Linked DNA regions of Homo sapiens: region 2 is linked to region 1. Evidence: fine-mapped expression QTL. A gene starts in region 1. The other region holds a variant in brackets. All regions are shown on one strand. Distances are between the middles of the regions. Region 1 holds the start of DEPDC7 (DEP domain containing 7). Region 2 holds the start of LINC00294 (long intergenic non-protein coding RNA 294).

Region 1 (11,664 bases):
CAGCCTCCAAAGTAGTTGGAACTACAGGCGCACACCACCATGCCCTGCTAATTTTTTGTATTTTTTTGTAGAGATGGGGTTTCGCCATGTTACCCAGGCTGGTCTCAAACTCCTGGATTCAAGCAATCCACCTGCTTCAACTTCGCAAAGTGCCGGGATTATAGGCATGAGCCACCACCCAGGTGGGATTTTTAAAAGAACTTTTTCTATTAGAAGTTACTAAACTTTAAACTTTAAAAAGTAGGAAACTGATATTTTTTAAAGCTCTGTATTTTGATGGGGACAATCAGAGCATCTACTATTTGCCCAGCAATGCACAAATGCTGAAAGAAGTCCAAGAGGTTAAAATATGCTCCATGCCCTGGACAATTTTCCAATTTTTTTTTTTTTTGAGATGGAATTTCACTCCTGTTGGCCCAGACTGGAGTGCAATGGCGCTATCTCAGCTCACTGCAACCTCCACTACCCGGTTTCAAGTGATTCTCTTGCCTCAGCCTCCCAAGTAGCTCGGATTGAAGGCATGCACCACCACGCCTGGCTAATTTTGTATTTTTAGTAGAGACGAGGTTTCTCCATGTTGGTCAGGCTGGTCTCGAACTCCTGACCTCAGGTGATCTGCTAGCCTTGGCCTCCCAAAGTGCTGGGATTACAAGCATGAGCCACCACACCCGGCAATTTTCCAATTTTCTTAGGCAATTAAGATATGTGTGTGCTCCCGTTAGAATGGCGATCATTAAAAAGTCAGGAAACAACAGATGCTGGAGAGGATGTGGAGAAACAGGAACACTTTTACACTGTTGGTGGGACTGTAAACTAGTTCAACCATTGTGGAAGACAGTGTGGCAATTCCTCAAGGATCTAGAACTAGAAATACCATTTGACCCAGCCATTCCATTACTGAGTATATACCCAAAGGATTATAAATCATGCTGCTATAAAGACACATGCACACGTATGTTCACTGCAGCACTATTCACAATAGCAAAGATTTGGAACCAACCCAAATATCCATCAATGATAGAATGGATTAAGAAAATGTGGCACATATACACCATGGAATACTATGCAGCCATAAAAAAAGGATGAGTTCATGTCCTTTGTAGGGACATGGATGAAGCTGGAAACCATCATTCTCAGCAAACTATCGCAAGGACAAAAAACCAAACACCACAGGTTCTCACTCATAGGTGGGAATTGAACAATGAGAACACTTGGACACAGGAAGGGGAACATCACACACTGGGGCCTGTCGTGGGGTCGGTGGAGCAGGGAGGGATAGCATTAGGAGATATACCTAATGTAAATGACGAGTTAATGAGTGCAGCACACCAACATGGCACATGTATACATATGTAACAAACCAGCATGTTGTGCACATGTACCCTAGAACTTAAATTATAATAAAAAAAGATATGTGTGTGCTGTAATAATCAGAGAGTATCAATACAAGCAGGAGATGAATAGTAATGCATTTGATAAGTGCCACAGGTGCTCAGAGAAAAAAAACACACCCGGGTAACCTGGAAAAATCTGTCCAGGGAAGAAAGTGGGAAAAGGGATAGGCATTTCCTATCCCATGGTTGTAGAAAGTATCTGAGTAGAGATGAACATTTCAGCATTCCAGAAGAGGTAAACAATTATTGCATAACCTGGTGAAAAACTCTCTGAAATGTTATATAAAGTATCAAAATGGTCACTGAGGTCACCAAGCTTTTTCAAATATTAGTGTTTTTCAAGATTTGTCTTCTGAGACAGATGAGCTTTTCCCCCCTCCCATGCAGTGAGGGAGGACTTGTGTGTTCATTCAGTTATACAGCACGGGATAAAGTTCATTGGTATACTGGGTGCCTGAAACCAGCCCTGAATGCATCCTCTTTCTGTGTGTAGCAGCCAATTGAGAGATTACAAAGAAAATCCTTAAACAGAAGTAAAGCAGGGTTTTACTACCATCAGGGGAAGAGGTCACATTAAAAAAAGGTTGCCAACTGGTTGGCAACCTTTTTTTTTCTTTTTTGAGATGGAGTCTCACTCTGTCATCCAGGCTGGAGTGCAGTGGCACAATCTTCGCTCATTGCAACTTCCGCCTCCTGGATTCAAGCGATTCTCCTGCCTCAGCTTCCCAAGTAGCTGGGATTACAGGTGCCTGCCACCACACTCGGACAGTTTTTGTATTTTTAGTAGGGGTTTCGCCATCTTGGCCAGGCTGTTCTCGAACTCCTGACCTCGAAGATCCCCCTGCCTCGGGCCCCCCAAAGTGCTGGGACTACAGGCGTGAGCCACCGTGCCTGGCCAGCTTTTTCTAACACTAAGCAGCAGCAACTGGCCCCCACCTCCCACCCACAAACCCAAGTCCCCAGGGGCAGCTTCTTAGTATGTATTCTCTGAAACAATCCCATGTAGAAGCTCTTTCCAATAAGCTAAATAATGAACTCCCACTTAAACACCATTCTAATTTACACCTAAATCACACAAGCATCCTCCTTCTAAGAAGACGTCATAATCGTTTTGAAAATCATTGCAAAATTCCCAAACTTGAAAAAAAAGAAAAAAAAAAGGGCAAGTGTCTGGCAATTGGATTATTGGTCTCTAAGACCACTCATCCTTTCAGAGGTATCCAGCATTGGATCCCTGGCCTGGCTTCAACTTCCAAGTAACTAAGATGTGTCCCATTAATAGCCCTTCCTCCTTTTCTCTCCTCACCTTCACTCCAACCGGCAGCAAACTGTCCCTACCCACCCGACCCACAGTTCCTTTGGAGGCAGCACAGATTTCCTGGCAGCCAGTCCCAGGGTCTTTCGTTGCTGCCCTCCTGTGACCTCTAGACATTGCTCTCCTGGGCCACATAGGATTTGTTTGTTCTGCACAGGTAGGGATGTCTGAAAAACTCGATTATTATTGTTATTATCACTATTACTACTACTACTATGACATAATTTTAAGCACTTACGTTCCGGACGCAGTTACTAAATGCTGAACCTGAATTGGTTCCTATAAACCTCGTTAAAAAACAAACAAACATCTCAGTGAAGCAGGTACTAAACCTACCCCCGCATCACAGGTGAGGACACCGACGCACAGAGCAGTTAGGCAGCTTGCCAGGTTCCCGACTTTTTCTATTTCTTTTTTTTTTTTTTTTTTTTTTGAGACGGAGTCTCGCTGTGTCGCCCAGGCTGGAGTGCAGTGGTGGATCTCGGCTCACTGCAACCTCCGCCTCCTGAGTTCAAGCGATTCTTGTGCCTCGGCCTCCCGAGTAGCTGGGATTACAGGCGCCTGTCACCAAGCCCAGCTAATTTTTGTATTTTTAGTAGAGAAGGGGTTTCGCCATGTAGGCCAGGCTGCTCTCGAACTCCTGACCTCAGGTGCTCTACCTGCCCTGGCCTCCCAAAGTGCTGGGATTACAGGCGTGAGCCACCGCGCCCGGCCTGGTCCCGAGTTAATCTACGGCAGGCCGCGGTTCGAATCCCGCTGGTGTGAGCCGCGGGCCGCGTAGTGCCGGCCCAGGGAACCGCTTTGTCCCCGACCACCGCTCGCGTGGCATCGCGCCCGAGGAAACTTGGATCGCTGGCGCCGCGGGCTACGTTCAGTGGTTGCCAGAGAGACACGTGACCGGCAGCGGGGGCGGGGCCTGCAGGGAGCCACGCCCCGCACAGTTAACAGACGGGCGCTCAGGGAGCTAGGGAGCTGTGAAGCTGCTGGAGGAGTTGGCGTCCGGGGAGCAAGGGCCATGGCCACCGTGCAGGAGAAGGCTGCTGCGCTGAACCTCTCGGCTCTCCACAGCCCCGCGCACAGGCCTCCGGGTAGGTGCCGAGGACTGCCGCCTGGGATGGCGCGGGGCGGGCTGGGGTGCGCGGGCTGGGTCCCGGCGCGGGGCGGGCGGCGTGGGGCGTTCGGCCGCCTGCGCCTGTCAACGGCCGGCTGGGCGAGCACAGCACAGCTGCGACCACTTGGCCAACGCCCCCGCCGAGCGGGCGGATCGAGTTCCTCTCTGGCTGGTGGGCTGCAAGCGGCAGAGCCCGCCCGCACAGCCCAGCTTTTTTCTTTCTACCCAGACTCTCAACTTGACCGCGCGTTGGTCTGTGCGCCCGCTAACGTGCCAGGCACGCGCCGGGGAGCTCCGGGATATGCTCCGCGGTGCTACCGGTGACAAGTGTGGTATCTGGAATTTGTGTAGTTCTTTGCCCCCTGTCTCAACCACAAACCTTGACGACACAGTATGGCCAGGGGCCGAGCTCCTCCCTTGCCCACTTTGTTCTCCAGACTGCTAGGAGTCAAGAGTCAGCTTGTCTCCCCAGACTCTTCCTGGGAGGGATGAGAGGTTTATGTGAGTTCTACTGGCAGGAATTTGGCATAAAAGGTATTTATTAACACTTTATGTATAAGCAGTATTTTAGTGAATAGAAGTTTTTGGCTAAAAAAACAGTTACATGAAATTAGGAGGGAAGTTGGCAAATTCTGCCACGGGCCTAATCGTGTCTTTTGGGGGCAGTTGATTTAGGATTCTGGTTTCTTTAAATGTTCAAACACATGAAGAGAATCGGATATCACTTCTAAAATGCTGGTTATAGCAGATCTACAACCCAGTTAATAGGGGTGACTCAGATAACTGTTAAGATACTCAGATAACCCTTGGCTTTTTTCTTTTGGTTAAGTTACAACTTTTTCCCCTTTCTGGAGCTCCAGTCTGGGATGTCGTAGGAATTAGTTCCCTTTCTGACAAAAGCCTTTCATTTGTAAAAACACCAACCAGTGAAACTGTGATTCCTTCCTCTGGGTCAAATGGGTGCTTCTCAGTGGCCCCACTCTTGTGTTTGACTTACTCACTAATGCTCATTTTAATCTTCAAAATGCTAACGACAGATTATGGTAGAGAACCATTTTTCACTTGTCCTTTTCTAAGAAAAATCATAATATTGACCTTAGTCTGCTTCCATGTAAAGGATTCAGGTAAGCACATAGTGGCCACATTGAGAATGTCTCCTTGATTTATGTTGTGAAGAGAAGACAAATGCTAAGACATTTGGGAATTTAAAACCAAATGACATTGAAAACAGTCTTGAGAAATCTTTTGGGCCCACTTACTCAGTGAAGGAAATTCCCAAATGTCACCTGCTTAAAATAAAAACATGGTACCCTGTTTTCTCTAATAGCTGAAATACCAATTCTGGAGCTTTGGGCATTTGTGAACAGGTTCTTAGATGGTGTAAGGAAGTATGTATTCAGAAATTAAGTAGATAACTCTCTAAGGGAAGAGTTGAAGTGCTGGTTATCAGGAATCAAAGGAACACTGTCCTCGGCACACTAGCTGCAGTGGACGGAGAGGGGCCCGCTGTTGTTCTCACTCGTTTTGCTTGCTACCGCTGGAATCCCGACCTGGTAACATTTGTTAGCCTTTCTTTCACCCTTTAGTTGCCTTGTCATAGTTCCAGTGAGCAAGGTAGTGGGAGCACACGGTTATTGGTTCTTTGCCATTCTCTTTCTGTGTGCTCTGGCAGGCAGCTTTGTACTTTTGTTTCTCCACCGATTAGTAACTCTCACTTACCTTAAAGGGGCTGTAATGACCAGGGACCTGATTTATGTACAAGAAATGAGATCTATATGCCAGTCTTCAGCCAGTATGTCAAAAACACTTGTCTTTTAATACGACAAACAAGAAAGTAGTCTGTTATCCTGTTATCCCTTTATACTGTAACCTAATTCTTTGAGTTTGCCTGGTATCACTTTTCCAGGGAGCTCAAAGTACTTCCCATATGCTGTCTCATTAATGTATGTGAATTAAAGCAGAGACCAATGTCTGCTTTTGCTGATAATTCTCGTAGATATTGTAAATTTTTCTTGTTGGTAGACTTCTTTTACCTACCTGCAGCCTTCTTTTCAGAGGCAATCGCAGTCTTCAGCATGACGCCTCTAATGCCAACTAGCAGGAAAATAAACTTTGGACTACCAGAACCAATATCCAGTAAAAGTGTTGTAATCTTGGGATCATAGTATAGAAAATTTTTCCACTCAGTCACAACTGTCAAGTTTTAACACCATAAACACAATTCTCTTTACATTTATCTATTAATATTTTCATGAGGTTTTGGTTACTATCCAACAAATGTCCTTTTTCTTTGTTGTCTTGACAATTCTTTGTGTGAGTAATATTTTAAAACCTCTTTTGAAAAAATCTTTCTTAAAATTCTCTTAAATCCTAAATGGTCTAGGATTTATAGATGTGTTATTTTCTGATGAAAAGTTAAATCCTCTGGTATGTGTCACATCTTGTCTTCTCATCTCCTGTTGGCCTTTATGTGATTGAATACTATTCAGAACTTGACATTATCATCCAGGTAGTAGGAGTAAATAAAAGGTAAACTCCTAAGGTTGGGGACTGTGTCCTCTGAGTTCAGAGGAAGGAAGAGGAAGAAAGATACCTCCCTTTTCTTTCTACTTTTAAAATAAAATTTTAGATTCACTAAATAGTATGGTCCATTTGTCATAATTAATGAACCAATATTGATACATATAATTATTAACTGAAGTCCACACTTAGATTCCCTTGGTGTTTGCCTAATGTTCTCTTCCAGGATCCCATCCAAGATATTATATTACATTCAGTTGTCATGTAATGAATCTACTCTTCTAGACTGTGACAGTTTGCTCCTTTTGTTTTTAGTGATACATCTGTTAATTTCTGGACATTTTGCGAGACACATTAACATATTGTCTCATGATCCTCGCAATGAGTGAGAGAAGTGGAGTTAGCTCTGTTTTGCAACAGAAAAGTTAGGCAGTTTGCCCAAGATCGTGTTATTAGTAAATGATGGACCCAACAACGGAACTCAGGTCCCTGGGACTGCAGAGTCCACACTGGTCTAACTCTTTGTAGTCACAGCACCTAGCACTGTGTCTGCTGCGTTAACTCAAGTTTCCATGTCTGAACAGTATTCAGTCAACCCAAGGTTTCTTAACCTTGGCACTACTGACGTTTTCTTTGTTGTGGGTGCTGTCTGTGCATTGTAAGATGTTTAGTAGCATCCCTCTACCCACTGGATGCCAGCAATACCCACACTCATTGTGACAATCAAAAATGTCTCCAGACATGTCCTGTTGGGGGTATAATCACCCACTGAGAACCACTGGGTTAACCTTCCTTTAAAAATTTTTTTTATGAACGGGGTGTAGTGGCTCACACCTGTAATGCCAGCACTTTGGGAGGTTGAGGCAGGTGGATCATTTGAGGCCAGGAGTTTGAGACCAGCCTGGCCAATGCGACAAAACCCCATTTCTACTAAAAATCCAAAAATTGTCTGGGTGTAGTGGCGCACACCTGTAATCCCAGCTACTCAGGAGGTTGAGGCAGGAGAATCGCTTGAACCCAGGAGGCAGAGGTTGCAGTGAGCCGAGATCACACCACTGCATTCCAACCTGGATGACAAAGTGAGACTCTGTCTCAAAAAAGAAAAAAAAGTAAGTTTTTTAGTAGTTAGCAATAATTAACAACTAACAAATATTGACTAACCAATTGTATTATATTGAGGCAATCTGTAAGGCAATTAAATAATTTAAACCTCTGTAAACCGCTAGGAAATCTGAAAGAAATCGGGCACTAGCTCACCATCTCTTAAAAGTTTTATGGAGAAACATCAACTGTCTGGATTCAGTTCCTTTTTTTTTTTTTTTTTTAAGTCCAGTCTAAAGACCGAGAATGGAAACAAATTTGTTATATGTTCATTAAGAGGTAGTGTGTTTTATTAATTCTGTGTGTATGTTTACCTTACATTGGGATCCAATTTTATAATGTGTATATTGATCTACTTCTAAAGATTTAATATAATCTTACTATTTGAAGTGATTATACAATTGTTTTCCCTTTAAATAGGTTTTCATAGGTTTTCACAGTAGGACTAGGGTTGCTGACAGGGTGGATTATGGTTGATGCTGATTATCCCTAATTTTTGGGTAAATGTAATTTCTTTACATTTTTAGGGAATTATTATGACTCAGTTATTTAGTGTGAATTCTTAGAAGTGAGGATGATTATTACTGGTACTACACGTATATATAAGTGTTCAATATTATCTTAGAAGTTTAACTTTTACTTTTGGTAAACGTTTTTTATGGTAGAGTTCAAATACATGTGAAGGGCAGCTTTTGAAAAATAGCTATTGTTTTCAAGCAAATAAGGATGAGACTGCTTGAAAAATGAAGGTTAACTAGCCTAGATTTATATAGTGCTTGAGACTATGTGTTGAAGGCTAGATAATCAAATTATTCCTGAGCCTCCTTAGGCAACCTTCCAAAAGGTTTTGTATCTGGTAGGGTCAAATTTGTCCATATGCTTCCTTTCTTGCCTATAGATCTGCCATATTTGGTGTTCAATGTCCTTATCTAAATGGAGGAGATATAATTTCAGTCTTTACATTCCTATAATCAGTTTATTTAAAGACAGGATCTCACTCTGTCACCCAGGCTGGAGTGCAGTGGTGCGATCCTAGCCCACTGTAACCTCGAACTCCTGGCCTCAAGCAATCTTCCCGCCATGGCCTCCCAAAGTCCTGGGGTCAGAGGCATGAGCCACTGTGCCTGCCCTGGCAGTTTAGACCTGAAACTAACCTAAAATATTGTGTTCAACTATTTTATCAGTAGATAAAGAAACCTACTTACAGAGATTGTCTCTTATCCAGAGTTTTTACAGCTGATCTCTAAACTCTTTGATTCCATTTGTTATGATGCTTTTAGAAAATGCTTGACCAGGCTGGGTGTGGTGGCTCACACCTGTAATCCCAGCACTTTGGGAGGCCGAGGTGGGTGGATCACGAGGTCAGGAGTTCCAGACCATCCTGGCCAACATGGTGAAACCCTGTCTCTACTAAAAATACAAAAAAAAATTAGCTGCACGTGGTGGCGCGTGCCTGTAATCCTAGCTACTTGGGAGGCTGAGGCAGGAAAATCACTTGAAGCAGGGAGTTGGAGGTTGCAGTGAGCCAAGATCGCACCACTGCACTCCAGCCTGGCGACAGAGTGAGACACCATCTCAAAAAAAAAAAAAGAAAAAAAAGAAAATGCTTGACCAAATGTAAGGAAGCATCAAGATGTAGATAGTGATGGATTTTAAAAGGTTGTTTAGCTCATATGAAAGTGAGGTTTGAGGACAAGCTGAACCCTTAATTCTGATTGCAAGACTTAAAAAACATTCATTGTCTATTTTTGGTCTCTTAAATCCTGTTTAGAAATCACAGTAAGTCATCTTACTGGGCCATGATCTGCTATACCAATATTCATTTCAGCTTTTAAATGACGATAAATAAGTTTCAAACCATATATGTTCAGCTGGTGAAGTCAGCATTTTAAAAAGCAGGTTATCCTGGTATGGGTTTTGGCACATTTACTTGTCAAGTCCAGGGTACATTGTGTATGAAAGCATCTGTATGAACATGAGCTAGTTTGTGGGTGGTGGTGCTTGAAGGGAAATATCCCAGGATGCAATGGTTGGGAATTAATGGTCAGTGAGAACAGAGGGGACCTGTGAGGGCTGCATTGTATCATGCCTGGAGGACTCTGGAAACCTGTGGTTCACAGGTGTCTACTCTCCTGCTCTAACTAGTTCTTTAATCTTTTATGCAGTGTTATACAACCTGCAGAACCTCCTGATTTCCCACAAGTTAATATGGGGAAATTTATTCTTTACCTCTTAATTCTTCTGTGAAGATTAGCCTTTTCTACTCATTGAGGCCAAATATCCCCTCTCACCGCCCTCTTCAGCTGTCTTACTGATCTGTAATTAATAAGTGACTCAGCCTTGTCATTTAGGATTTGTGTGCTAACCTACTTATAGCTCAAGTGTTATGACTTATGTGTTTCATCTTTATATTATCACTAGTCCAAAAGTCTGTCTCATTGGTTCTTAAAAGGCAGTCTGATTGAAGTTTGAATCTTGCATGTCTTCCTTTTCCTGTCTTACCCTGTGTACTGTGGTAGTATTTATTACAGAATTTATGATATCCTGCCTTATTTTATGAGTAGTGACTACTGTTTTTAAATAGCTTGGTTAAGGGTTCTTAGAGTTTGTTTTATCTCTTGGCTCTCTTAAAGCTGTTTCACTTAATCCAAGTTTCCAGTGAAAGGTTAATGCTTAAACAACTTATCTGATGGCTGACTTTTCATATATTTATGTTTAAGTACTAGGAAACACTAGTATATATTTATCAGCTGTGTAACTGTGGGCACATTTAACTCACAGAGCCTCAATTTCCTCAAAATAGGATTATTAATAATCATTTTGCAGAGAAGCTTATCAGAATTAAATGCGAGAAGACAGAGCCTGTCATAGTGTAAATACTCAAATGTTAGCTATTAATAATAAAGATTTGAAAAATTAAGCAGAAATTGTTTATTTTAAATCTTATTTATAATCTCTGGTATTTTAGGAAGTTAAGAATATTAGTCGCTAACAATGTTTAGGCATTGTGGCTGGAAATAGTACAACTACTCCTGAGTTCTGGATACCAGAAATGACCTGGACTTACTCTGAGATTCCATCAAATGCCTCATTCTTGCTCTGTTCAACAGAGACTAAATACTGTACCAAGAGTAGATCTAATTCCAGCTTGATTTATTTAGTCAATTCTCCATAATTCAGTTCCTGAAATAGCTCACATTATATTTGGAAGACTGGCAACAATTACTTCCATCTTTGTTTAGTACTGGCTTATGAAATATCTTCAAATTTAAAATACAATTTTGACAATTAAAAACAATCTTGCTTATTTTGGGAGGCCTAGGTGGGTGGATCACGAGGTCAGGAGATCGAGACCATCCTGGCTAACACGATGAAACCCTGTCTCTACTAAAAAAAAATACAAAAAATTAGCCGGGCGTGGTGGCGGGCACCTGTAGTCCCAGCTACTTGGGAGGCTAAAGGTGGGAGAATGGCATGAACCCAGGAGGCGGAGCTTGCAGTGAGCCGAGATCACGCCACTGCACTCCAGCCTGGGTGACAGAGAGGGACTCTGTCTCAAAAAAAAAAAAAAAATCTTGCTGATCATTTTAAACCAACGTTATAATAATGGGTAGGTGGTAAATTACCCATCTACTTTTGGTATTAGAAATATACAAATAAACAATAAAGGACTGTGTATTTGTGTATATGCTATTCATTTTCACTATAAAGATGTTTAAATTGCTAGTAGCTACAGAATTATGCTACAAGTGAAATCAGTGTAGTGGTTCAGTGTACTCCTTATATTTATTGCAACGTAAGAGATGAATTTCAAATGACCCACTTATAATTTATGGCTCTAGTGCACTAAGAGGAGTTTTTGTTTATTTATTTATTTATTAGACGGAGTCTTGCTTTGTCGTCCAGGCTGGAGTGCAGTGGCACTATCTTGGCTTACTGCAACCTCCACCTCCCAGGTTCAAGCAATTCTCTGCCTCAGCCTCCTGAGTAACTGGGATTGCAGGTGCCTGCTACCACGCCCGGCCAATTTTTGTATTTTTAGTAGAGAGGGTTTCACCACCTTCGGCAGGCTGTAAAGGAGTTTTAATAATGTCCTTCAGGAGCTTATCTTATGCTTTCTTCATCTTAAACATTCTATTTTGCCTAAAAAAGTAGGAAGATAATTTCAAGTAGCAATTTCTTTAATTATAATTCCCTTTTTTCCTTACCATTGTACTCATGCA
Region 2 (16,904 bases), 61 kb after region 1:
GGCCAAGGTGGGCAGATTACCTGAGGTCAGGAGTTTGAGACCAGCCTGGCCAACATGGTGAAACCCCGTCTCTACAAAAAATACAAAAATTTCCTGGGCATGGTGGCGTGTGCCTGTAATCCCAGGTACTCGGAAGGCTGAGGCAGGAGAGTCACTTGAACCCAGGAGGCGGGGGTTGCAGTGAGCCGAGATCGCGCCACTGCACTCCAGCCTGGGAGACGAGGGAAACTCCATCTCAAAAAAGAAAAAAAAAAGAAGAAGGGTGATAGGGCTGGGTGCAGTGGCTCACTCCTGTAGTTCCAGCACTTTGGGAGGCGGGGGCAGACGGATCACTTGAGGTCAGGAATTCAAGACCAGCCCGGGCAACATGGTGAAACCCCGCCTCTACTAATAATACAAAAATTAGCTGGGCATGGTGGCATGCGCCTGTAATCCCAGCTACTCGGGAGGCAGAGTGGGGAGAATCGCTTGAACTCGGGAGGCGGAGGTGTAGTGAGCTGAGATTGTGCCACTGCACTGCAGCCTGGGCGACAGAGTGAAACTGTGTCTCGAGAAAAAAAAAGAGTAAGGGTGTTAGGCCCTGTCCTGTCAGCAGTTTCTGTCTGTGTTGTGAGGCTCAGGAGGGTATAAGTTATTTGCACCTGAGAGGATTCCCCAGGCAGGAGGCAAGGCATGTAGTTTGAAAAAGTCTATTCCATATAAATGTCTCTGTTGTTTTTGTGATAAAATCTGCAAGAAGTGTGGCTTGATCAAATCTTTTTTCATGAGGATACACAAGAGTACAAAAGCATTGTGAAGGGGAATGGACTAGAAAAGCATCAACCTAAATTATTCCTCCAAGTAGGACAAGTTTACAAATGCCCATGACTTCCATGCAGGCATCAGAGAAGGAAGCACGAGCTGCTTTCATGGAGGCTTAGTAGGAAAAAAGTCTTTTTTGAACCTGTAATTCCTGCTTTAATCTTCCACCTTTTTATGTGATCGTCAGCGATGGCTAACAATGGTCTCAGGATGTGTTGCTCCTCGGAGAGCAGAGCATGTCTCCAGTCTTCCTTTACTCACTCATGCATTCATTCATTTTTTTTGTTTTGTTTTGTTTGGGGACAGAGTCTGGCTCTGTCGCCCAGGCTGGAGTGCAATGGCATGATCTCAGCTCACTGTAACCTCCACCTCCTGGGTTCAAGTGATTCTTGTGCCTCAGGCTCCCGAGTAGCTGGGACAACAGGTGTGCGCCACCACACCTGGCTACTTTTTATATTTTTAGTAGAGACGGGGCTTCACCACAATGGCCAGGCTGGTCGAACTCTTGACCTCAGGTGACCCGCCCACCTTAGCCTCCCAAAGTGCTGGGATTACAGGCGTGAGCCACCGCGCCTGGCCACTCATGCATTCATTCTTGCATTCCAAGTGTGTTTGAGCTTCTCCTGGGAGCTGGGTCTCATGCCAGTCACTGTGCTGAGTGCTGAGGAGACATGATGAACAAGATGAGCATGGCTCCTACCTTCATGAAACTAACCATCTAGAGGGGAGAGAAAACATTATAAATGGGATGAATATGCAGAAGTGCAAGGTGCTGTGGGTATCTGGTCTGGGAGTATTGATCGGGGACAACTTCCCCTAAGAGGTGATGGTTAAGCTAAGAACTGAAGCACAGTAAGGTTTGTAAGGTGAAGGACAAGAAACAACTGACCACTTTCTTTTTTGTCACAGAATCTCGAATCCTGACCTTCTTAGAAACCTACCTTGCCTCGGGTCATCAGAAGCCATTGCCCACAGTCCCTGGGGGACTCAGTCCAGTTCAGAGAGAGCTGGAGGAAGTTGCTATTAAATTTGCTCGCCTGGTCAACTATAACAAGATGGTCTTCTGTCCCTACTACGATGCAATCCTGAGTAAGATCCTCGTCCGATCCTAACGTGTATGCACCCTACAGCAGCAGTATTACTCACTAGCCACAGAATACCTGTTCTGTACTCTAATGTTGCATTGGAAAATGGCTATATAGTACATGTCTATTTAACAGCACCGATTCCAAAGGGAAGAATATTGTGTATCACTGTTGAAAAGACTTGTTGAGAAATCCACTGAATTCTATTTTGAGAGATTGTATTTATGAGTGCAAGTTTACAAATCAAAGAAGCATTTTGTTCTCGAGTTTTACAGGTAACACTCAGCTGTTGTCTCCACTCCTCCCCCATCATGTCCTTCCAAGGAGGCTGGGACCTCTCTCTTCTGCAATCTGGGTAGTTCTTTCAGATGCCTCATGCTGAGCTGACGGCCATCCAAGCGCAAAAGAGACCAAGCCATGGCCTCACCTCCTGCCCTCCCTCAGACAGCCTTGTCCCTCACCCCTCCCTTCTGGTATTTTTGTTAGAAGGGCTATATAACGTCTTATTGCCATTTTCTCCCCCTATTTATTGCTTCCTCCCTGCCTGGCCTAGCCAGGGCTCCCAAGCCCTTTTTTCTAGAGGAGAGTTATTTGTCTCTCTCTCTTTTTTTTTTTACTTTCTTTTTTGTATTTAAACATTCTTTTAACCTTCCCCCAAAGATACAGTTATTGGACTTTAAAAAGCTTGTTCTTTTATACAAAATTACTCCTGCATCTGGTTGAGAGCAGTTATGACTTATGAGATCTAGTGAAAGGAAAGTCTTTGACTTTCAAGCCTTGAAAGTCAAGGAGGAAATGTATTGAAAAATAGTTTACTGTAATGTGAACGAAGAGAAATGTCTGGAATTCTTACTGAAAAATTGACCCTGAGACAATACACAGATGTGATGATTGAATTAAATTCTGGAATTAGATTTAACTGTTTTCAGATAAAATAGCTTGAGTTCACGAATCTCCTAGATGAGGAAGTCATAGGAAATCCCTGGTGTTTGAGCATTATTTTTCAAGGAACTTCAGTGACCAGAATTCCTGACATGTCCTCTGAGCGTGAGTGATTTGGGTCTCATAGACGATCTGTTCTTTTTTTTTTTTTTTTTTTTTTTTTAAAGTGTACACATGTATGTCTGCATTTTAGACAGGGATGTTATATTAGAAGCAGAGCCATGAAGTTGGAATGACCAACTGCCACAACAGCAAGGGGTAAGACTATATTACTGTATGAGTAATGCAGTAATATCGGCACCTGAAGCCTTCTGTACAGGAAGCTAAGAGAAACTTACAAGTTAGCCGGGCGTGGTGGCTCACGCCTATAATCCCAGCACTTTGGGAGGCCGAGGCAGGCAGATCACCTGAGGTCAGGAGTTTGAGACCAGCCTGGGCAACATGGTGAAACCCCATCTCTACTAAAAATACAAAAATTAGCTGGGTGTGGTGGCACGCGCCTGTAATCCCAGCTACTTGGGAGGCTGAGGCAGGAGAATCGCTTGAACCCGGGAGGCAGAGGCTGCAGTGAGCTGAGATAGCACCACTACATTCCAGCCTGGGCAACAGAGTGAGACTCTGTCTCAAAAAAAGAAAAAAGAAAAGAAACTTGGAAGCCATTTCAGAAAGACTCCAGGAAGGCCAGCAGCCACTCCTGCACAACCAGGGGGAAGGGCTACATTTTACTGCAAGCAGCTGTTTTCTCTGATCCTTCTTTGTAAGGAAGTGCAGTGATTTTGTGTTTTGAAGGAAGACTTGAAGAAGCAGTTGGGTAGGTATTCCAATAGGACTGATGGGGAGGAAATCAGATACTCCATGAGAAGGATTTCAGACCTGGTAGAGTCAGAATACATTCTGCTTTCAGGATTTTTGAGATTGCTGATGGTCCCAGGGTTTATACAAGGACTTGGATCTGGCTATAGAAACTCAGGTAGAAATTACATGTATGCAGATCAGCACTGATGTTGGTTCTAATCTATAATGATGTGATAAATTAAAAAAACAAAACAAAAAACAGGGCTGGGCATGGTGGCTTACACTATAATCCCAGTACTTTGGAATGCCAAGGCAGGAGCATCATCTGAACCCAGGATTTCAAGTCCAGCCTAGGCAACATAGTGAGATCATGTCTCTACAAAAAATACAAAAAAAATTAGCCTGTTGTGGTGGCACACAGTTGTACTCCCAGCTACAAGCTGAGGCTGAGGCAAAAGGATCACTTGTGCCCAGGAGTTTGAGGCTGCAGTGAACTATGATCATGCCACTGTACTCCAGCCTGGGTGACAGAGCCAGACCCTGTCTCTCCTTAACAAAAAAAAGTAGAGCCAGATGTATCTTTTTGGGTCCCAGGCAGGAGACTGGAGAATCTGGGTCACTGTAATCTGGCAGACTGGCTGCATTTTGTGAGGGTACTTTTATTCATATTTATTTATTTTTGTTTGTTTGAATGCATTATTATTTTTTTAATAGAAACCACATCACTTCATTTGTTACAGCGAATAATTCAAGAGGGTCCCAGAAAGCTTTTTCATCCACAGAATTACAGAAAGGATAAGCACCCTCACCACCCAAGCCTTTGGTTCATTTTTTATTTTTTCAAGACGGAGTCTTGCTCTGTCACCCAGGCTGGAGTGTGGTGGCGCGATCTCAGCTTACTGCAACCTCCATCTCCCGGTTTCAAGCGATTCTCCTGCCTCAGCCTCCTGAATAGCTGGGATTACAGGCACGCGCCACCATGCCCGGCTAATTTTTGGATTCTTAGTAGAGACGGGGTTTCACCATGTTGGCCAGGCTGGTCTCGAACTCTTGACCTCGTGATCCATCCGCCTCGGGCCTCCCAGAGTGCTGTGATTACAGTCGTGAGCCACCACACCCGGCCTGTCTTTAAGTTTTATACTAGTTAGGAGGCTAGTCTATCAGAATGTCCCTAATTTAGCTGAGGAACCTAGACAAGTCTTCCTTGATTTCAGCTTCATCCCAAGGCCTCTGAATATTTTCTTTAAAAAGCTGCAGGCGAATGAGGTAAAATGGACAGAGACATGAGATAGAAATCAACAGAAGGGCAAAGAGTACGGCTCCCACAGCACTAATAGGCAGTAGGCCTTCCAAGACCGAAAAGGCAAAAAGCAGTGTGACCACCACATAGCCCTTGGGAGTCCGTGCCTTTAGTTTCTTCTGTAGCATGAGCCACAGGACAAAAATCTGGATGGCAAGTGTTCCCATGATGAAGACATGCAGGGACTGGGGAAGGTGGAAGCCAAGCATCCAGAAGCAAAGATGGCCATGTTCAAGGATAGTGTGCTGGATACAGTGGATACAAAGGCATCATTGGCACCATAGTTAAAAAAGATGAGGTGGCCTACCAGCATGAAGACTGACATGGCATAGATGGTGTCAGTGCTGACAGACTCTGTCAGGGTCTTAGCACTGGTGAAAAGCCATAAGTGAAAGTAATGAAGACTAGGGCACTCTTCAGGTCAGCCCACCGGGTCCACCCACTCTTCTGCCCTTCACCTCCATCAGTGAGATCAAACAAAACATACCCAATCAGTGAAGAAGCCAGGCCAGTCCCAAAAAGCCATTGGGGGGCCAGAAGACCCTCATCCATATACCACCAGATAACCAGAAAAACAAAAACACTGCACAGCTGCGGGATCACCACACTGGACTCAAATACCATAGCCCAATATTGGTATTTCCGAGCATGGATGTTTTTCCAGAGCTCTTCCAGGAACCGCCGGTCCACAAAGTTATCAGGAAAGGGCTGTTGCTCATACAAGACCCTCTGCCACTTTACCTCCTTGGTGTTTGTTACAGGTTGGGTACACATAATCCTTTCATTCAAACTCAGGCTAGTTTAATCATCCCTCTCACAGAGGTCCATGTGGTTCTTGTTGATGACATTTTGAAATGAGACCTCCCTGGAAATTCCATGCCTTGGTTGATATTCTGCTGACCTTTCCTTGTTTTCAAAGGCAGCAATCCAGGCCAGGCCTACAATAGATGAGTTTGTCTCTGAGGCAGGATATAATACAGCCAAGTTCCTGGGGATGCGTGACTGGGAGATGGCAGTTGCCTGCCTTTTTCCTTGTAAGGGTTTTTTTTTTTTTTGAGATGGAGTCTTGCTCTGTCGCCCAGGCTGGAGTGCAGTGGCGCGATCTCGGCTCACTGCAACCTCTGCCTCCCAGGTTCACGCCATTCTCCTGCCTCAGCCTCCCAAGTAGCTGGGACTACAGGCGCCTGCCACCATGCCTGGCTAATTTTTTTGTATTTTTAGTAGAGACGGGGTTTCACCGTGTTAGCCAGGATGGTCTCGATCTCCTGACCTCGTGATCCACCCGCCTTGGCCTCCCAAAGTGCTGGGATTGTAGGCGTGAGCCACTGCGCCCTGCCATGAGGGTACTTTTAAAGAAGATAACATCTTCCATGGTGTATTCAATGAGGTCGTGTCTGGAATTGTTCCCTTAAGGTGGAGGCTGCTCTGTGGCCACTGTGCCTGGCGGTTGTATGATCCTGGGTTCCTGGGCAGAGAAGCCTCAGCCTCAGAGTGTTTGGGGCCTTTTCCTGCCGCTCCAAGGCTGAAGGAGAGGAGCTTAACCCCAACTGCACAGCGCTGATCACCACTTCCTGCAGTCATTCTTCCTAAATCTCAAAAACTCTTCTTTTGTAAGAGTAGATTCTTGCAAGATATTTTTCCCCTCCTGAGTTCTTACATTGCCAGAGTTCCATTTGGACCGTTTGAAATCTTGATGCATGAATAACTGGCTTCACAGACTCTTGGCCGCCCACTACCTCGGTGTCCACTGGTGGAGTTCTGCAACTGGCAAAAGTCAAGAATGAAGGAAGCAAACTTCAGAACCACAATATTCATATTGAATCATTTTGTTGTTGCTCTATGAAGATAAGCTAATTTTCTTCCTGGAATCTCATAGGATTATTACTAAGGGCCAGGGAGATCCACTTCGTTCATTTAGTCACTCAGGAAGCATTGCTAAGCATCCCCCTGTACCTTCCCCTACAGCTCTCCTTCCAAAACGAAACATCCTTTGGAGTGTGTTGTCCTCCAGAATCGAATGGATTCTATATGCTGCATTCAGTAACAGGTTGTGGAGACAAGTGTCTTTTCCTGAAATTGCTAAGTGTATTTGGCAGTACTTTACTACTTGTGGATAGAACTGAGAGTGAGGTCAGTATCACCAAGCCTCTTGGATTTCTTCAGTAGTCTCATGGATAAGTGAATGTTTAAAGTAACTACTACTTTGTTGGCTCTTGGTTGGGTGGATGGATTCTCAGTCCTGGTGTTTTTAAAAATCTCATTCCAGCCGGGCGCGGTGGCTCACGCCTGTAATCCTAGCACTTTGGGAGGCTGAGGCGGGCAGATCACCTGAGGTCAGGAATTCGAAACCAGCCTTACCAACATGGCAAAACCC[A/G]TCTCTATTAAAAATACAAAAATTAGCCGGGTGTGGTGGCACGTGCCTGTAATCCCAGCTACTCGGGAGGCTGAGGCAGGAGAATCACTTGAACCCTGGAGGTGGTGGTTGCAATGAGCCGAGATTGCGCCATTGCACTCTAGCCTGGGTGACAGAGCGAGACTCCGTCTCAAAAAAAAAAAAAATCGCATTCCGTCTAAAGCAAGCTACAAAATGTGATTATTTATGTCACGATATGACCCAGCCATAAATGTACTTCAGGTAAGAAGGACACTGACATGATATCTTACTGATCAAATGCAGTCAGTAGGTATATATGAACTTTTTTCTCTGTGAAGAAAAGCTATTAATAAGTTTGACTTAATAGGCCTATAGTATGCACATACTGGCCAAGATTCTAAATGGATTATTCAGCGGTTCTGTTTTTGTGGAGGTGCTTATTCTCATTTCTCCAAAGCCTTAAGATTCCTGGGAATAGAGGAAATGTTGCTGCCACCAGCTTTGCTGGTGAATTTCAAAGAGAATAGGTGTTTGCTGTTTGATTTCTAGTGACCTTTTGGCGAGCTCTGATTTATAGGTAGAACATTTGTGTTTCTTTTCATTTTGAGGCCAGGTGGTAGAGTGGAAAGACTGGGAGCTGTCAGGAAACCAAGGCTTGGATCTCCACTCTGTTATGTACCAGCTGGGGCAAATCAGGGCCCATTCCCAACTCCTTTAAAATGAAAGGACTAGACTTGGTCTTTAAGCTCCCTTCCGATTCTAACATTTGGTGGTAGCAGGATTGTGCACAAAGCTCCTAATTTAGAGAAAGATCTGGGTTTTAGTCTTTTCTCCTCTATCGCCGCCTTACCGGTTGTACAACATTGGACCAGCCATTCTCCCCAAGGCCTCGGCATTTTCATTGTTAAATGGGAACACTCCTAATTCACACTGTTGCTGTGAGGATTACATTTGGTAATGAATGATAGAATGCTTTGTACATGGAAAAGGACTATACCTTTCTTTTTTAACTACAAAGGCGAACATGTAACCCTCTACCTGTGGGCGCACATTTGCTGTGGTGTTACGTTCCACTGGTAGCGCCCAACCTCCCTTCATTCAAGCACATTTTACGGGCCTACAGGGAAGGTTTTCTTCCTGTCCTCTCCTAAGACTTGTTTATGTTCATCATCTCTTCTATACTAGAGCTGCAGTCTTACATTTGCTTACTTCCTGACATCCACCCCCACCCCAGTGATTTCTCCCCATCTCCACCTCTATATTATTTGAACTAAATGAATTCATGAATGAACAAATGAGTGGATGAATGAATGGTAATGGATAATGGGCTATGAAGTCATATTTAAAGGCACTATCTCATTTAAAAACAATCTAAATAAATAACTACAATGATATTTGCAAGTGTGTATTTATATTGGATTTTGCATTATATAATTATTTTAATGGAAAGCCTTTTTAGTCATAGTATTCAAAGCAACTTCAATGGGTGGGGAAGGGGATAATCTTTAAGCCCAGGTAAGCTCTGTTTATTAAACGATCAAGTGTTCACTGGTACTTTCAGAAATAGCCAGAGTTCTACAAAATATGTGTTAAAAGTCTAAACATATAATTCTACTTAAAACTGTCCCTCATGTGGGTTTCTGTCACACCTGACTTACATTTATTGCCTACCGAACTTAAGAACCAGAACTAAGCTATAGGCCTGGTTCGATGGAGTGTCACTTTTCTTGACTTAAAAGTAACCTTAAAACAAGAGGGGCTGGGCAAGGTGGCTCACGCCTGTAATCTCAGAACTTTGGGAGGCCGAGGCAGGCAGATCATTTGAGGCCAGGAACTCTAGACCGGCCTGGGCAACATGGCAAAACCTTGTCTCTACTAAAAGTACAAAAATTAGCCAGGCGTGGTGGCATAGGCCTGTGCTCCCATCTCAGCAGGCTGAAGTGGGAGGATTGCTCGAGCCCGGGAGGCAGAGGTTGCATTCAGCCAAGATCATGCCACTGCATTCCAGCCTGGGTGACAAAGTGAGACCCTATCTCAAGAAAATAAAAAATAAAAAAAAGAAGGGCTTCACATGGTGGCTAATCCCAGCAGTTTGGGAGGCTGACGTGGGAGGACTGCTTGAGCCCAGGAGGTCAAGACCAGGCTGGACAACACAGGTAGATCCTGTTTCTACATAAAATTTAAAAAATTAGCTGGGTATGGTGGATGGTGGTGCATGCCTGTGGTCCCAGCTACTTGGGAGGCTGAGGTGGGAGGATTATGCTGTGATCATGTCTCAAAACAAACAAAAAGACTTATGAAAATTTTTGTTTTCTTTTGTTTTGATTGTTTGTTTTTGAGATGGAGTCTCACTCTGTTGTCCAGGCTGGAGTGCAGTGGCACAATCTCAGCTCCCAAGCTCAAGCAATTCTCCTGCCTCAGCCTCCCCGAGTGGCTGGGATTACAGGTGTGCGCCACCATGCCCGGCTGATTTTTGTATTTTTAGTAGAGATAGGATTTCACCATGCTGCCCAGGCTGGTCTTGAACTCCTGACCTCAGGTGATTTGCTCGCCTTGGCCTCCCAAAGTGCTGGGATTATATATGTGAGCCACCGTGCCTGGCTGAAATTTTTATTAAGTAAAACGTAAGTTCACTTGCTCATTGCCACAGTCAAAGAACTACCATGTTAAAAAAAATAATAATAATAATTTATGACCATGATGACTATGGTTTAATAAAATTGAACTCAACATTTATTAACTATAGGCCAATACAGGGTTATAATATCAAATAAATTCATAATTATTGACCAGGGTCAATATACTAACAGAAATGATGTGTTTTTCCTTCTTTTTCTTTGGTACAGTTTGGTTGTTCAGAAAGTTTACTAGTAGTTTCTATTAACCTTTTACTGTACTAGATGTGGCCACATAGGTGCAACCTCTTGTTTGAAGTTTAGTGGTAAAGGCCAGAGTTTGACTAATTTTTGTTTAGGAAGGACATACATATAGTCCTTGAAACTTTTGTCTAGTTCTAGAATCTTGAGGAGATGCTGTCATTGCTTTTATAAACAGGAAAAAGATGGATATCTTTTGGCAATTTCTTTGGGTCCAGCAATACTGATATGAGTCCTTGGAATTGTAGGACTGATTATCCCATGAGTCTGCACATTAGATTTCCAAAGGTAAGTTCAGATGTCTAACATCATGCTGCTTGTTGAACTGTTTAACAAAAGGAATTATCAAATATCAGGCAGAATCACCTTAAAAACTAAAAATTCATACATATCTCTAGCAGTTAGAACATTCGAAAATGTTTTCTTCTAATGAGAATCCTTTTTATGCTCAAAGAGCTGATCATTTCTAGGAGAAAAAAATCCTATAAATAAATGCAATAGGAACAATTATAATATACATAGTAGCCTTAATAATAATTGATATGGTTTGAATCTGTGTCCCCACCAAATCTCATGTCAAATTGTAATCCCCAGTGTTGGAGGTAGGGCTTGGTGGGAGGTGTTGGTCCAGGGGGGTGAAGTTCCCATGAAAGGGTTAGCACCATCCTCTCGGTGCTGTTCTTGTGACAGTGAGTTCTCATGGAATCTGGTTGTTTAAAAGTGTGTGGCACCTCCCCCCTTTCTTCATCCTGCCCTGGCCGTGTAAAACGTCCCTCTTCCCCTTCACCTTCTGCCGTGATTATACATTTCCTGAAGCTTCTCCAGAAGCAAATGCCACTAATCTATCTATACAGCCTACGGAACCATGAGCCAGTTAAGCTTCTTTTCTTTAAAAATTACCCAGTCACAGGTATTTCTTTATAGCATTGTGGGAATGGACTAATAAAGTGATTAAAGACACTTTTCACCAAGTGTGTGTGTGCGTGTGTGCACGCACGCACGCGCACACACGCTAAAAAATGGTTTTTCACACATGTTCGCATGGCTTTGTTTTATTGTCTGTGGGAACACTTTGGCAGATCACTTACAGGTATTTGAAACTGTTTTGTCTTCTTTTTTTTTTTTTGAGACGGAGTTTCGCTCTTGATGCCCAGGCTGGAGTGCAATGGTGCGATCTCGGCTCACTGCAACATCTCCTTCCCAGGTTCAAGCAATTCTCCTGCCTCAGCCTCCCAAGTAGCTGGGATTGCAGGCATGTGCCACCATACCTGGCTAATTTTGTATTTTTAGTAGAGACAGGGTTTCACCATGTTGGTCAGGCTGGTCTTGAACTCCTGACCTCAGGTGATCCGCCTACCTTGGCCTCCCAAAGTGCTGTGATTATAGGCGTGCGCCACCTCGCCCGGCCTGTTTGTCTTCAAAACACTAACTGTGGAGTCCTAATTAGGGAAAGGGAGTCAGGCTGGTGGGAGCAGGGAAAAGCAGATAAATTATGAGTCTGCCTTTCTTCATGGTCCAGGACATGTAGCCGTACTGCACCCAACTTATCACCAGACACCTGCAAGTTAGCTCACTGCAACACTGGCATTCTCAGTAGTACATAAAACCCTCTTCAGCACATGGCACTATCTTATAAAATCCCCAGCAAGCCTTTGTCTCTTTGCAGACAAGCATCTTCTCTGCCTGTTCCAACCTTGCAGTGCATTTTCATACCTTCTCTAATCTACCTTTCTCTACCTACTATTGTCTTGGTAAATTCTTCTTACCCCCACACCACCAGCCCCAGATAGTCGCTGCTCACCCCCGATACTAACCACCAAAAATGGCACTTCAGGAACAAGTCTACACCTCTATATATTTTTTGAAGCAGGGTCTCACTCTTTCGCCCAGGCTGGAGTACAGTGGTGCAATCATGGCCCACTACAGCCTTGGCCTCCTGGGCTCAGGTGATCCTCCCACCACAGCCTGCAGAGTAGCTGGGACTACAGGCTTGTGCTACCATGCCCAGCTAACTTTTTTTTTTTTTTTTGGTATTTTTAGTAGAGATAGGGTTTCACTATGTTGGCCAGCTGGCCTCGAACTCCTGGCCTCAAGTAATCTTCAGCCTCCCAAAGGGCTGGAATTACAGGCAAGAGCCACCGCGCCCAGCCTACATCTCTGTATTTTAAAGTCTATGCCATATGGTATTACTTGTCTTTTTTTTGGAGAGCGTCTTGCTCTGTCACCCAGGCTGGAGTGCAGTGGCGCTACCTCGGCTCACTGAAACCTCTGCCTCACAGGTTCAAGCAATTCTTCTGCCTTCGCCTCCCAAGTAGCTGGGATTATAGGCTTGGGCTACCACGCCCAGCTAATTTTTTTGGTATTTTTAGTAGAGACGGGGTTTCACTTTGTTGGCCAGGCTGGTCTTGAACCCCTGGCCTCAAATAATCTGCCCGCCTCGGCCTTCCAAAGTGTTGGGATTTACAGGAGTGAGCCACCACACCTGGCCTACTTGTGTCTTAAGTTTTGATGGTAACTGATATTTTTAAAAAACTCACAACTTGAAAGTGATGCTTGAAAGGATAAGAAAGTCTGAATTAGAGGCAGCTGACTTTGTTTTGAGAGGCGATTTTTAGCTTTAATGGGAAAATACTGGAAACTAAACACACTTTTGACCAATTTATATAACCTTGCTACATATAAATTTATATGAGTAAATGATTCAGCATAACCTTTTTTTACAAGTAAGACTTTTATGGGACATTTGAAGCTGATTTTAAATGTCAGATTATTTAATCACATCTGAATTCAAATTCTAAACTAAATTGTTTCTAATATGTAAGATCATTTCTTTATAATCATAATACTTGTCCTCCCCTCCTTTTTGTTTCCCTCCTGCTTTTTAGTTTTTAACTAGTAATGAGAAGAGGAGGTAATGTTGTTACCAAAGAGCAAAGTCTAGTTCTTTGGACTTAATTTGCATGACAAGTTTTTGCTCACTGTAATTAGAATTTAGTTAAATAAATGTCATTTTCCTTAATGTTATCTATGTTTAGCTCATGGAAAAAAAAATGTTCTTGAGCACTGGGCCCCTGTGAAAATATACAAGTTGAGTATCCCTAATCTGAAAATCTGAAATCCAACATGTTCCAAAATCCAAAACCTTTTCGGTGCCAACATGATGCACAAAGAAAATGCTTAGTGGAGTTTTGTGGAATTTGTACTCTTGTATTAGGGATGGTGAACTGGTAAGTATGATGCAAATATTCTGAAATCTGAACAAATCCAAAATCCTGAACACTTCTGGTCCCAAGTATTTTAGATAAGAGATACTCTATGTGAGAACAAGACAGCAGGTGGTTAAAGGAATTTCCACACTTAGGTTGCTTTCAAGAGAGACAAAAGTATTAACAGGATCTTAATCTGCCTCAGATTTACTGGGGAGCAAATGCATTCATATTTGAGGATTTCTAAAATGTTTAATTTGCCTCTTAAAAATGTTTTTAGTTAGCACCAAAAAAGACAGACCAGGAAAGAGTATGTGATTAATACATTCAGTAAATACAAGATGACTTTTCCTTGTCCTGACATTTATTTTTAAATGGTATTGGATAAATAACATAAGTAGTTATTGTAAATAAAATCTGAAAGAAGCAGAGGAAGCATGATGTTTCTGAATCCTTTTATTTTTTAAAGGACTTTTAAAATTTGAAACTACAAAACGGATTTCATACATTCTGCCATAAATAAAAACAAACAATAAGGCAGGACTCTACATAAGCAAACCAAGAACAATTGTTTTCAGAAAATGTGATAAAATGCTTTACAATCATAAGCCATCCAGTTTTTAAAATAAAACTGTTGAAAAACTCACAAATCTTCAAGCGGCACATACAAGACACCCTTGAAGAGGGAACAAAATGTGGTTCTGCCACTTTGTACTGTTCTCACATTTTTGAAAACCTAATTTTGCTTAGAGCATAGGTCTGTTCCGTATTCTAAAATTCACACAGGTTGGTTTGTTTTTTCTCAAGAACCATGTGATAGAGGCACCAATGACAATACAACTTTGTTTCCAAGAACCTTGTAACAAAGCGTTGTCTCTTTTAAACATACCACTTGAGGCAAAAGGAATCCTGGACAGGAGTTTTCTGCAGAGGCGTTTAAAACCCTACCGAATCCGCTTCTGCTGCCGTGCTCTGTAAATGTCATGAACAGGGGGGACAACGGCTCCCTTTTCTTCATCTTCATCTGAATCCTCGTTGGGCCTTTTGACGGCCTTGGTGAGTACTGCATTACTTTCCACGGGGCCGTTGCCTTCTACAGCTAGCTCTGGGGCCCCACCAGTAATGATCCTCACAGCTTCCTCAACAGCTATTAAAACAAAACAACAAAACGTAAAAACATATTCCACTATGAAAGGGTATGTATGTTCAACTGTGGATACTTTATTTCATAGCCTACTATTTTAGCAAAACATGGGATAGTACTACTGATACTAAATAATTAAAGAAAAAGACAAAAGCTGCTGTTAAAACTAATAATTTTCATAAGCCAAGCCTGATAGTGCATGTTCACATGAATAGAAAAGATAAAGTTTTATGACATTTTACTTAGTGGAATTCAATGTGAATAAGCCTTTCTCTGCCAAAGAGGGTTTGGGTAACTCCTGGGTTTCACTGCACTTCAAATTGGCTGGCTGGTTTCGAAAACTTCAGTGGCAGAGAATAATAATCTCTACTGCCTATGAGACAACAACGTGGAATGACACTCTGAAATGGAGCTTCTGTTACTTACTATTTGGTATCTTGCATCTTCGGAAAATTTCCATCAGTTCATCCACTTGTACAAAAGGACCCTATTTTTGACATGAATAAATTTTAATCCCAGTAATCTGACAAGTTAAAGTAGTAGTAACTTTATACACAATTACTATGACCCACAGAGCCAGTATCTACCATGAAAATAAGTGAACAAACCTGGAAACAGATAGGAGGAGGGAGAAGTTTCATTAAAACAACAGCTGCAGGAGGGACTGGGAACACTCCACCAGGTACAGGGTGTAAACCTGGAGCTGTGAGAAAAAGAAAAGTATGAATCAAGTGGAATGGAAGAATTTCTACACAGAGCTAAAATCAAGTGACTTGCACATAAAGATCTTCCATGTCTGCTGCTTTGTTCTGGACACTGAAAATACTTCTAGGGCTTTACCAAACCAAAGTGGGTGAGACAGCAGTCTCAATGCCGTGGCCACTGGGAGGCAGAGAAGTAGACAAGTGACTTTGTGTAAGACAACCAGGGACTGAACTAAAGTCAGTTTTTGTCAAAGAGTGTTTCTGAGTTACACAAGTCATTTGTTTAGCAATCCTGTTTCAAGTCAATTATTCAACAGTGTATTTAATCAGAAGGGCCTTGTTCAAAAAGAATCTAGAGAGGCTACTAACCCATTCCTAAGTAAAGAAACCAAATCTATCAGTGAAGAAAGTTTCCACCAGCTGTTCAGGTAATCTGCACATAGCAGCATTCCTTTTTTTTTTTTGATACAGAGTGTCGCTCTTGTTGCCCAGGCTGGAGTGCAATGGCACCATCTTGGCTCACTGCAACCTCCGCCTCCCGGGTTCAAGTGATTCTCCTGCCTCAGCCTCCCAAGTAGCTGGGATTACATGTATATGCCACCAGGCCCAGAAAATTTTTGTATTTTTAATAAAGACAAAGTTTCACCATGTTAGTCAGGCTGGTCTCAAACTCCTGACCTCAGGTGATCCACCTGCCTTGGCCTCCCAAAGTGCCAGGATTATAAGTGTAAACCACTGCACCTGGCCATAGCAGCATTTCTGAAAACCAAGTATTACTGCCAAAATGGGTTCCTGGAATCTGGATCATTGAAGTTTTGTTTTTAGGACATTCTTAGTTAATCTAGTTCAAAGATTAAAGCTAAATCACTTGTCATAGTGATCCTAAGTCTAATAATTAACCCACAATTGAGAGGCCATGTCACTTTACCCCCACGCTTTGGATTTAAATCAACAAACAAACCAACGTCTCAGTACTGGATCTAAAGTCATGGCTTACGTGCTAAATGTCGTGGCTGAAATGGAATCATCTGCTGAGTGTCTGGTTTAGGGTATTCTGGTTTTCTATCCACTTCATCTTTCAGAACAGGCACTATAGAAGGAGCTACAACTGGGTCCGGAATTATAGCTGCTAGCTTAGCACGGGAGACATCCTGAAAATGCAGAACAGAAGAATCCTAAACCTGAAAAAGGGACTACTAGAGAATAATCATGCAATAACCTTGAGGATACAGTGTGAATATCTGGGTCAAAACCACAGAAAGAAAATGGAGACGGATAAGCAAGGACTCTAATGATGGTAAAGATTGTTACTCAACAAGGAAAGCTATTTGGTTCTAAGACTCAGTGTATCATAACTTTACCCCACACAAGTTACAAGTCATTAAACTTAGTGTTGCCAGGCAGGACATTTGTAGGACAGATACAAGCTTTTTTGGGTAGTCAGACTGGGAACCAAGTAGAGGCCAGGATAATTTGGAGGAAAATTCAAGATTTTAGATCTTCTGACACCTCCCTTCCATTAGAATTGAACACCAGTTTCATTAAATGAAGAAGCTGGATTAAGTGACTTCCTGTTTTGTGAAGGCATCACACCGGTTAAGATTTTGCTAATGCAATGAAAAATTATTTCCAATGTACTATTTATTACAGGGGACAAGGAATATTTACTGAGCAGAC

The links.
Region 2: its variant is fine-mapped to the expression of DEPDC7 in whole blood (INTERVAL, PIP above 0.99).

What each region holds. Positions count from the first base shown.
Region 1 is chr11:33,012,232-33,023,895 of GRCh38, forward strand. It overlaps DEPDC7 (DEP domain containing 7), which reads left to right and starts at 3,647. Exons shown (of 9, transcript NM_001077242.2): 1 at 3,647-3,797. The coding sequence starts at 3,725. It overlaps LOC105376615 (a long non-coding RNA gene), which reads right to left and starts at 3,559. Exons shown (of 4, transcript XR_931167.2): 1 at 3,046-3,559. RefSeq lists silencers at 3,492-3,541, 3,862-3,921.
Region 2 is chr11:33,070,764-33,087,667 of GRCh38, forward strand. It overlaps LINC00294 (long intergenic non-protein coding RNA 294), which reads left to right and starts at 5,387. Exons shown (of 1, transcript NR_015451.1): 1 at 5,387-8,691. It overlaps TCP11L1 (t-complex 11 like 1), which reads left to right. Exons shown (of 10, transcript NM_018393.4): 10 at 1,711-2,787. The coding sequence ends at 1,913. CSTF3 (cleavage stimulation factor subunit 3) reads right to left here. Exons shown (of 21, transcript NM_001326.3): 18 at 16,225-16,378; 19 at 15,132-15,226; 20 at 14,950-15,010; 21 at 13,821-14,526. The coding sequence ends at 14,324. It also overlaps the pseudogene PIGCP1. The variant A/G (reference allele first, on the strand shown) is at 7,298.